Homo sapiens: one gene and its partner. The protein of the gene in region 2 interacts with the protein of the main gene of each other region in a pairwise test. Each region holds a gene or a part of one and is shown on either strand. Other genes may lie near its edges.

What was found.
Region 1: the proteins of ITPKC (region 2) and PPP3CC interact in a two-hybrid assay, tested with the Homo sapiens proteins (one large-scale study listed by BioGRID and IntAct).

The regions. Positions count from the first base shown.
Region 1 is NC_000008.11:22,472,078-22,475,577, reverse strand, and holds part of PPP3CC (serine/threonine-protein phosphatase 2B catalytic subunit gamma isoform), read right to left. Parts: intron 625-3,500; coding exon 427-624; intron 79-426; coding exon 1-78. UniProt on the Homo sapiens protein: Calcium-dependent, calmodulin-stimulated protein phosphatase which plays an essential role in the transduction of intracellular Ca(2+)-mediated signals. Dephosphorylates and activates transcription factor NFATC1.
Region 2 is NC_000019.10:40,736,904-40,741,111, reverse strand, and holds the end of ITPKC (inositol-trisphosphate 3-kinase C), read right to left. Parts: intron 4,127-4,208; coding exon 4,025-4,126; intron 3,415-4,024; coding exon 3,343-3,414; intron 2,306-3,342; coding exon of another isoform or gene 2,261-2,305; exon of another isoform or gene 1,756-2,260; coding exon 1,552-1,755; 3' UTR 252-1,551; downstream 1-251. UniProt on the Homo sapiens protein: Catalyzes the phosphorylation of 1D-myo-inositol 1,4,5-trisphosphate (InsP3) into 1D-myo-inositol 1,3,4,5-tetrakisphosphate and participates to the regulation of calcium homeostasis.

The DNA.
Region 1 (3,500 bases), on a different chromosome or scaffold from region 2:
AGCGTGTGTTACTAGGTGATCCTCCAACTTCAAATAACTTCATTAGGTCAAAGAATTGTCCATGAATATCACCACATACTAGGAAAAAAAGCATAAAGTGATGTGAGAAATTATACCTTAGAAGACGAAGGGCATTACACCAAAAGGGATCACAGTTTAACTTCTAACTTAAATCACTCCAGCTTTTGACAGGACTGCTGTAAAACTGTAGTCAATCTACTCATACTAAATAGTTCTACTGGAAATATGAGACACTTAAAATTGTATTTCTTCAATTAACAACAAATATCCTAACCAATCCTGACTGTCTCATAATTTCTAGAAAAATTACCACACCACTTTTTAGCTGGTTATTTGTAATTATTTCTCAAAACTGCTCATGCAAATCTATACTGTAAAAAAGTATCATGCAAAGACTTTTTATACCTGTGATTGGAGCATCTACTTCTATCATAGTCTTCTCTTGCCTCAGGATGGCAGCCCCATCATTGATTATCTTTAAGGCTACTTCCTCTTCCAGTCGTCCTTCCTTTACCAAATGGTTTTTTAAAACATCAACTTTAGGTTTCCCATTCTCAAATACTTCCTTGAAAGTAAGCCGTTGGGTTGGAGGAAAGGGGACAGCTACAAAAAAATAATAATAATAATTTAAAATATTTAAATGTATAGAGAACAAACAGAACACAATTCTTTTACATGACAAATTAAACCTAATAAATCACCATGATTTCACATCCACAGCACCAGTACGTGGGGAAAAAATTCTAAGATACTATGTATCATAAATGATCAATTCTAAGTATAAAAAGGTGACAGTCATTTTAAATATTTGTGTGTGCATAAATTATAATGGTTTTTGTTGTTTGTTTTTTTGAGATGGAGGCTTGCTCTGTCAACCCAGGCTGGAATGCAGTGACACGATCTCAGCTCACTGCAACCTCCGCCTCCTGAGTTCAAGCGATTCTTCTGTCTCAGCCTTCTGAGTAGCTGGGATTACAGAAGCATGCCACCACACCTGGCTAATTTTTGCATTTTTAGTAGACACAGGGTTTCACCATGTTGGCCAGCCTGCTCTCGAACTCCTGACCTCAGGTGATCCACCTGCCTCGGCCTCCCAAAGTGCTGGGATTACAGGAGTGAGCCACTGCGCCCAGCCCTATGTTTTACACATAAACATGAAAGACTTGAAGCTGATTCAGGGAACAAGTTATAAATGAGACAAGACACTAGATGACATGAGTATCTTTGTTTTTCTATCTATAGAACAGGTGTTAAAAATGAAACTATGGTTAAAGAAAATGAAAGAAAAGTAGTCATAATACTAAAATGGCATTTATTTCTCCTATAGAACTGTCCTAATGACACCTATGTTTTAGAAGTCTCGGCCGGGCACCATGGCTCACGCCTGTAATCCCAGCACTTTGGGAGGCTGAGGCAGGCAGATCACTTGAGGTCAGGAGTTCAAGACCAGCCTGGGCAACATGGCAAAACTCCACCTCTACTAAAAATACAAAAATTAGCCAGGTGTAGTGACAAGTGCCCATAATCCCAGCTACTCGGGAAGCTGAGGCAGAAGAATCGCTTGAACGTGGGAGGCAGAGGTTGCAGTGAGCTGAGATCGCGCCACTGAACTCCAGCCTGGGCAACAGAGCAAGACACTGTCTCAAAATAAAACAAAACAAAACAGAATAAAACAAAAGGCAGTAGCTTAATGTACTTTGTTACTGATAATAACAAGAACACTACTACCAAGATGGAGCTATGTCTGAGAATAATTTGCTGTAGTAACAGAGCATAAAAGAATGGATAAGGGGCCGGGTGTGGTGTGGCTCACGCTTGTAATCCCAGCACCTTGGGAGGCCAAGGTAGGTGGATCACCTGAGGTCGGGAGTTCAAAACCAGCCTGGCCAACATGGTGAAACCCTGTCTTTACTAAAAATACAAAAATTAGCCGGGTGTGATGGCACACACCTGTAATCCCAGCTACCTGGGAGGCTGAGGCAGAAGAATTGCTTGAATCTGGGAGATGGAGGTTGCAGTGAGCCGAGATTGTGACACTGCACTTCAGCCTGGGCGACAGAGCAAGACTCCGTTTCAAAAAAAAAAAAAGTGGATAAGGGAAGTCCAGTTATGTTTTCTAACCTGGAAATGCTAATAACTACCTTCAGTTTACATTAGGTACAAAGTTTATATATATAATATCATGGAGAATTAGCAAGTTCATTTAATATTTTTAAATTGGCTGTTGTCTTGTTATGTGCCTACTTTATAACACAGTCTACTTTAGATCCCCTGGGATCTAAGAGCCACAAGTCTGTAAACCATAAATTTAAAAGGAGGCGTTCAATTGAATTTCTGATATATGTCCAATGTTTCCACTTCCAGCTTTATGGAACCAAGTTGAAATCTATGAGTATTTTTAAAAGACTTAATCTAGCCATACCATATTGTATCATTTACAAGTAAAGAAAGTCCTATTATAAGTTTCGTCATGCTTTCAGCTACTACTTGACTCATTTTAACTACTCAAATTTCACTGAAAAAACGATAGCAGCTACCCAACCACTAAAATAGCTAAATACAGTTGTGTGCCACAAAATGATGTTTTGGTCAACAATGGACTGTAGTTAAATGGAGCTGAAAAACTCCTGTCATCTAGTAACGTTATAGCCACAATAACATCGCAGGAATTGACTAATGAGTGGGAACTGGAATAGGAATGCAAAGCTGAAGAAGCAGCAAGAGAGAAGGAAGTTTGCTGGAGAAAGAAAAAGAACCCCCAACAAAACTCACAGTGAAGGGTTTGGGAGAAGCTTTTGCACACCTCAACAAACTCCTTAGGAAGTGTGAAAACATGGACCCCCAAAAACAGAAAGGTTTTCATTAATACACAGGAATGTTCATGCTGCATTAACTGCTTACAAACAAATCTACAATGAAAAATAGAAATAAACCAAGCAAAACACCATGGGCAAATTTCTGAAAAGAGTGACATCTCCTCAAGAGCCTCAGGCAGGTCCTTCAGGAGGACTTCCAGAAGAAGGTATTGTTATCCTAGGAGATAACAGCTCCATGCCTGTTACTGCTCCTGAAGGTGTGCCAGTGGATAAAGATGTAGGGGGGCAAGCCAGGGATATTCATGATCCTGACCCTGTGTAGACCTAGGCTCAGTGTGTGTGTGTGTGTGTGTGTGTGTGTGTGTGTGTGTGTGTGTTCATTTTTACCAAAATATTCTAAAAGTTAAAAAAAAATTTAAACTTTTTAAATAGAAAAAGCCTATAAAGATATAAAGAAAAATTATTTTCTATAGCTATACAATGTACTTGTCTTTTAAGCTAGGTGTTATTACAAAAAAGTCCAAAAGTTTTTAAAAACTGAAACATTTATAAAGTAAAAACTTAACAGTAAGCTAAGTTTAATATATTATTAAAGAAAAAAAATTTGTTTTTGAGATAGGATCTCGCTTTATTGCCCAGATGGGAGTGCAATGGCACTACCAT
Region 2 (4,208 bases):
CACCATCCCAGCCCTGATCAGCCTGTCTGTGCATCCCCCATCCCAGCCAGGGCTTGGAGCAGCCTTGCTCACCACTGTGTCCCCTGCATTGTAACACATCCAGGCACAAGAATAGCCGCCCAGTGACTGCCAAGTGAGTGAACCAGCCTGCTTGGAGCCTGCCTCTTTCCCAAACTGCTCATTATCCTGTTACCCCACCCAGCCCACGTGTCCAAATACACTCCAGATGCAAAATAAAAAGCTCTACGACATTGGCTCTGAATGTTCTGTTTATTGGGGTGTTGTCATGGGTAGGAGGCTCAGCAGAGCCATTCTGCCTCCTGCTTCCCAGTACTACCCCGTCCAGCAACTGCCTCTCGTATAAATAAGTATCAAGATGGTCAGTAGAAAAGGAGAGCATCTCCTCAGCCCTGGAAGACAGTGTGGGAGCTTCAGCTTAAGGAAGAGGTAGGTGCCTGTCCGCCAGCCCAGCCTCAAGGGCCAGGAAGACCTGGCTATGGGTGCTGGAGGGGCCGTTAGCCACACCCCAGGGTTCTACAGTCTTTGGTTTGGATCAGGCTGCAGGCCAGGGTCCTGGCTGGCAGCCCCACCCACCCTGCGCCTCTGACACACACCCAGCGCTTTTCCCTGCAGGGGCCCGGGATTGGATGGGGCCCTCCTGAGTGCAGCAGCTCTGAGTTGCAAGGGGAGGCCCACTTTCCCAGCCTCTGAACCTCCTTTCTGCCACTGCAGTTTGCTGGGAGAAAGGAGAGAGAAGCCTGGGGGTCAGGCAGGAGGTGTAAGTCCTGAGGCCGGATCTGGTGCACAGAGGAGCGAGGTACTGTCACAGTGCTGGCACAGAAGCTGGGATGTGGCTGTGGTTTGGGTCTGCAGGAGGTCAGCAGAGTCCGCCGAGGAACACGGAGGATCCCACAGGGCCACAGCAGGGCAGGATACCGCCCAGCGGTATCAGCCCTCAGGCCGCATCCAGTCCCATGGGGTCATGCCCTCTGAGCCTCTTGTCGCTCAGCACTCAAATGGCTCCCTGGTGAAGACATGGACTGTCACTCTCCCCAGATGGTCCAGCAGCGCCTGCATCTGTTCACCAATGATGCTGACCCTCTGAGGCGCCACAGATGAGCCTGACCCAGTCCCTGGCCTCAGCCAGCTGGCAGCCTGGAGGCTGACAGGGAGGCAGGTTAGAAGTGATTCATGTGTCCACAGGCACCCTGTCACACCATACCCTGTGACATGTGAACTGAATGCTCTCAGGGCAGCCCCTCAGAAGCCTTCCCGGCAGATCCGGGGACCCCGTTCTGGTTTTTCTGACTCACTGCCTCATCACCTTCCTTCCAGGTCCCCAAAACCCCTGCATCATGATGGGGCCAGGTGCTACCTGGTCTCCCAAGGCCCTTCAGACTTTTCCACGTTGGTCTCGTGTGGCACATGACACAATCTCTCCCGTCCCTGGAGGCCAGCTCCCCCGTGGCCAACCTCAGGCCTCCCATGGCATCTCAGGGCTCCTCCAGCCAGACTGGCGCCATCCAATTAACCTGATGGTGGCTGAGCAGCTCAGCTCTGTGCCAGCCCCTGCAGGAGGCAGATCATGTTGTCCAGGCCCCAGAGGTAGCCGTCCTCACGGTTGCCCTCAGCCCAGGGCAGCCTGTGGCTGAGCGTCTGGTGGTCGGGCAAGGCCACCGTCTTGCCGAAGTCTATCATCCAGACCTTGGCCAGGCCGGTGTGGTCGTGCACGAAGAGGAGGGAGCTGCCTACCACCTGCCGGGGTAGAGACGGGAGGTTAAGGGAGGAGCAGGCACTGGCCAAGGTCCCTTCCTGACAGGCAGCAGAGCAGGGTGATTGACAGCATGAACCCTGGAGCCTGGCTGCCTGATTCATATCCTGGCTGTGCCACCTCCTGTCTGTGCAGCCTTAGGCAGGTGTCTTAACCTCTCTGTGGTTCTGCGTCCTCATATACAAAGTGAGAGTAATACAGTTAGTCTCCCCAGTCCGTGGTTTCATTTTCTTTGGTTTTAGTTACTCTCAGTCAAGTGCGATCCAAAAATATTAAGTGGAAAATTCCAGAAACAAACAATGTGTAAGTTTTAAGTTGCACATTGGTTTAACTACTGTGATGAAATCTCGTGCCATCCCGCTTCGTCCCACCTGGGATGCGAATCATCCCTTTGTTCAGCAAGTCTATGCTGTATCCGCAACCCACCCACTAGTCACCTAGGAGCCATCTTGGTTATCAGATCGAGAAAACACAGTCTATAGTTCAGTACTATCCACAGTTTCCGGCATCCACTGGGGGTTTGGAGGAGATCACCTGAGGATAAGGGGTCGACTGTAGGATCATTTACCTCAGAGGCTGCTGGGCATATTATATGTAGGAATTAATCTACATTAAGTGCTTAAGACAGTGCTTGGTACATAGCAAATACACAGCAAATGTTCAGTGTGAGGCATAATCAAAATGCACTGCAGCCTTGACCTCCTGGACTCAAGCCCTCTTCCTGCCTCAGCCTCCTGAGTAGCTGAGACTACAGGTGTGCACCACCATGCCTAGCTTTGCTTTTTTTTTGAGACAGAGTCTCACTCTGTTGCCCAGGCTGGAGTGCAGTGACACAATCTCAGCTCACTGCAACCTCTGCCTACTGGGTTCAAGCAATTTCTGGCTAATTTTGTTGTTGTTGTTGTTGTTGTTGAGACAGAGTCTCACTCTGTTGCCCAGGCTGGAGTGCAGCGGCACAATCTCGGCTCACTGCAAGCTCCACCTCCCGGGTTCATGCCATTCTCCTGCCTCAGCCTCCCAAGTAGCTGGGACTACAGGCGCCCGCCACCACGCCCGGCTAATTTTTTGTATTTTTTAGTAGAGACGGGGTTTCACTGTGTTAGCCAGGATGGTCTCGATCTCCTGACCTCGTGATCTGCTCACCTCGGCCTCCCAAAGTGCTGGGATTACAGGCATGAGCCACCGCACCCAGCCAATTTTTGTATTTTTAATAGAGACGGGGTTTCGCCATGTTGGCCAGGCTGGCCTCAAACTCCCGACCTCAAGTGATCCGCCCGCCTCAGCCTCCCAAAGTGCTGGGATTACAGGCATGAGCCACTGCACCCGGCCTTTTTTTTTTTTTTTTTTTCCAAATAGAGACGGGGTCTTGCTGTGCTTCCCAGGCTGGTCTTGGCACTCCTGGGCTCCAGCAATCCTCCCACCTCAGCCTCCCAAAGTGCTGGTATTACAGGTGCGGGCCACAACGCCCAGCCCCTTTTTATATCTTTGACCTGTAACTCATCAATGGTTTCCCCTCCATGCACCTGGACCCCGACACCCATACATCCACCCATGGAAGCCAGGGCTCGCACCTCGTGGGTCTTGAAGAAGGGGGAGATCTCCAGAGCTTCACGAAGTTCTTCTAGGCATGCCACGTACTTTTGCTGTGTGACAGGGAGCGTTCTTTGGTTAGCATGGGGACTTTGTGGGGCCTTGCCCACCTTGAGCTCTGACCTCACCCCATTCCCCCAAAGGAGCAGGCAGGCTCTAGCCAGGATGGAATAGGGGAGCCATGGGGAAGACAGGGCAGAGGAGTGAGGGCTTGGATTCATCAAGGTGGCATGGAGAAGAGTGGTGGATTCCATGAATTTCCACTCCCATCCGGAGGCGGAGTCTGTCTCCAGACCCCTCGATCCAGGCTGGGTCACATGACTTGCCGAACGGCAGAAATGATGGTGGCCATTCTGAGCCCAGGCATCAAGAGGCCTTGCATTTTTACTTGTTCTCTTGGCCCCCTGCCTCCACTGTGAGAGCAAGCCCAGGCCATCCTGCTATCGAGAGACGTGCGGCCAAGTCATGAGCCAACCGGCAGAGCTGGGAGCAGGGCCCCCTGGACCAGCCAGCCTTGCCAAGCCACCAGCTGACCTCAGACTGAGCAAAGCCAGCCAGTATCAGTCCAGCCCCACCCAAAGCAGAAGACCACTGACTCTGGAGCAAGAATAAATGGTGGCTGTCTTAAGCTGCTACATTCTGGGACATGGGTGTCCCACTCACCAGGATGACGTGGTCTCCATCCACGAAGTCCTCCAGCACTTTTGTCACCTGCTCCAGTGCCTGCGTCTTCTTGAAGTTGGTGTTACAGGTCCCATCTGCCTTCTGTAGGGCAGGGTGTGGAGGGGCAGGGTCATGGGCTTTTCCTTCCCGCACCCAATACCCAGCAACCTCAAATACCTCCCAG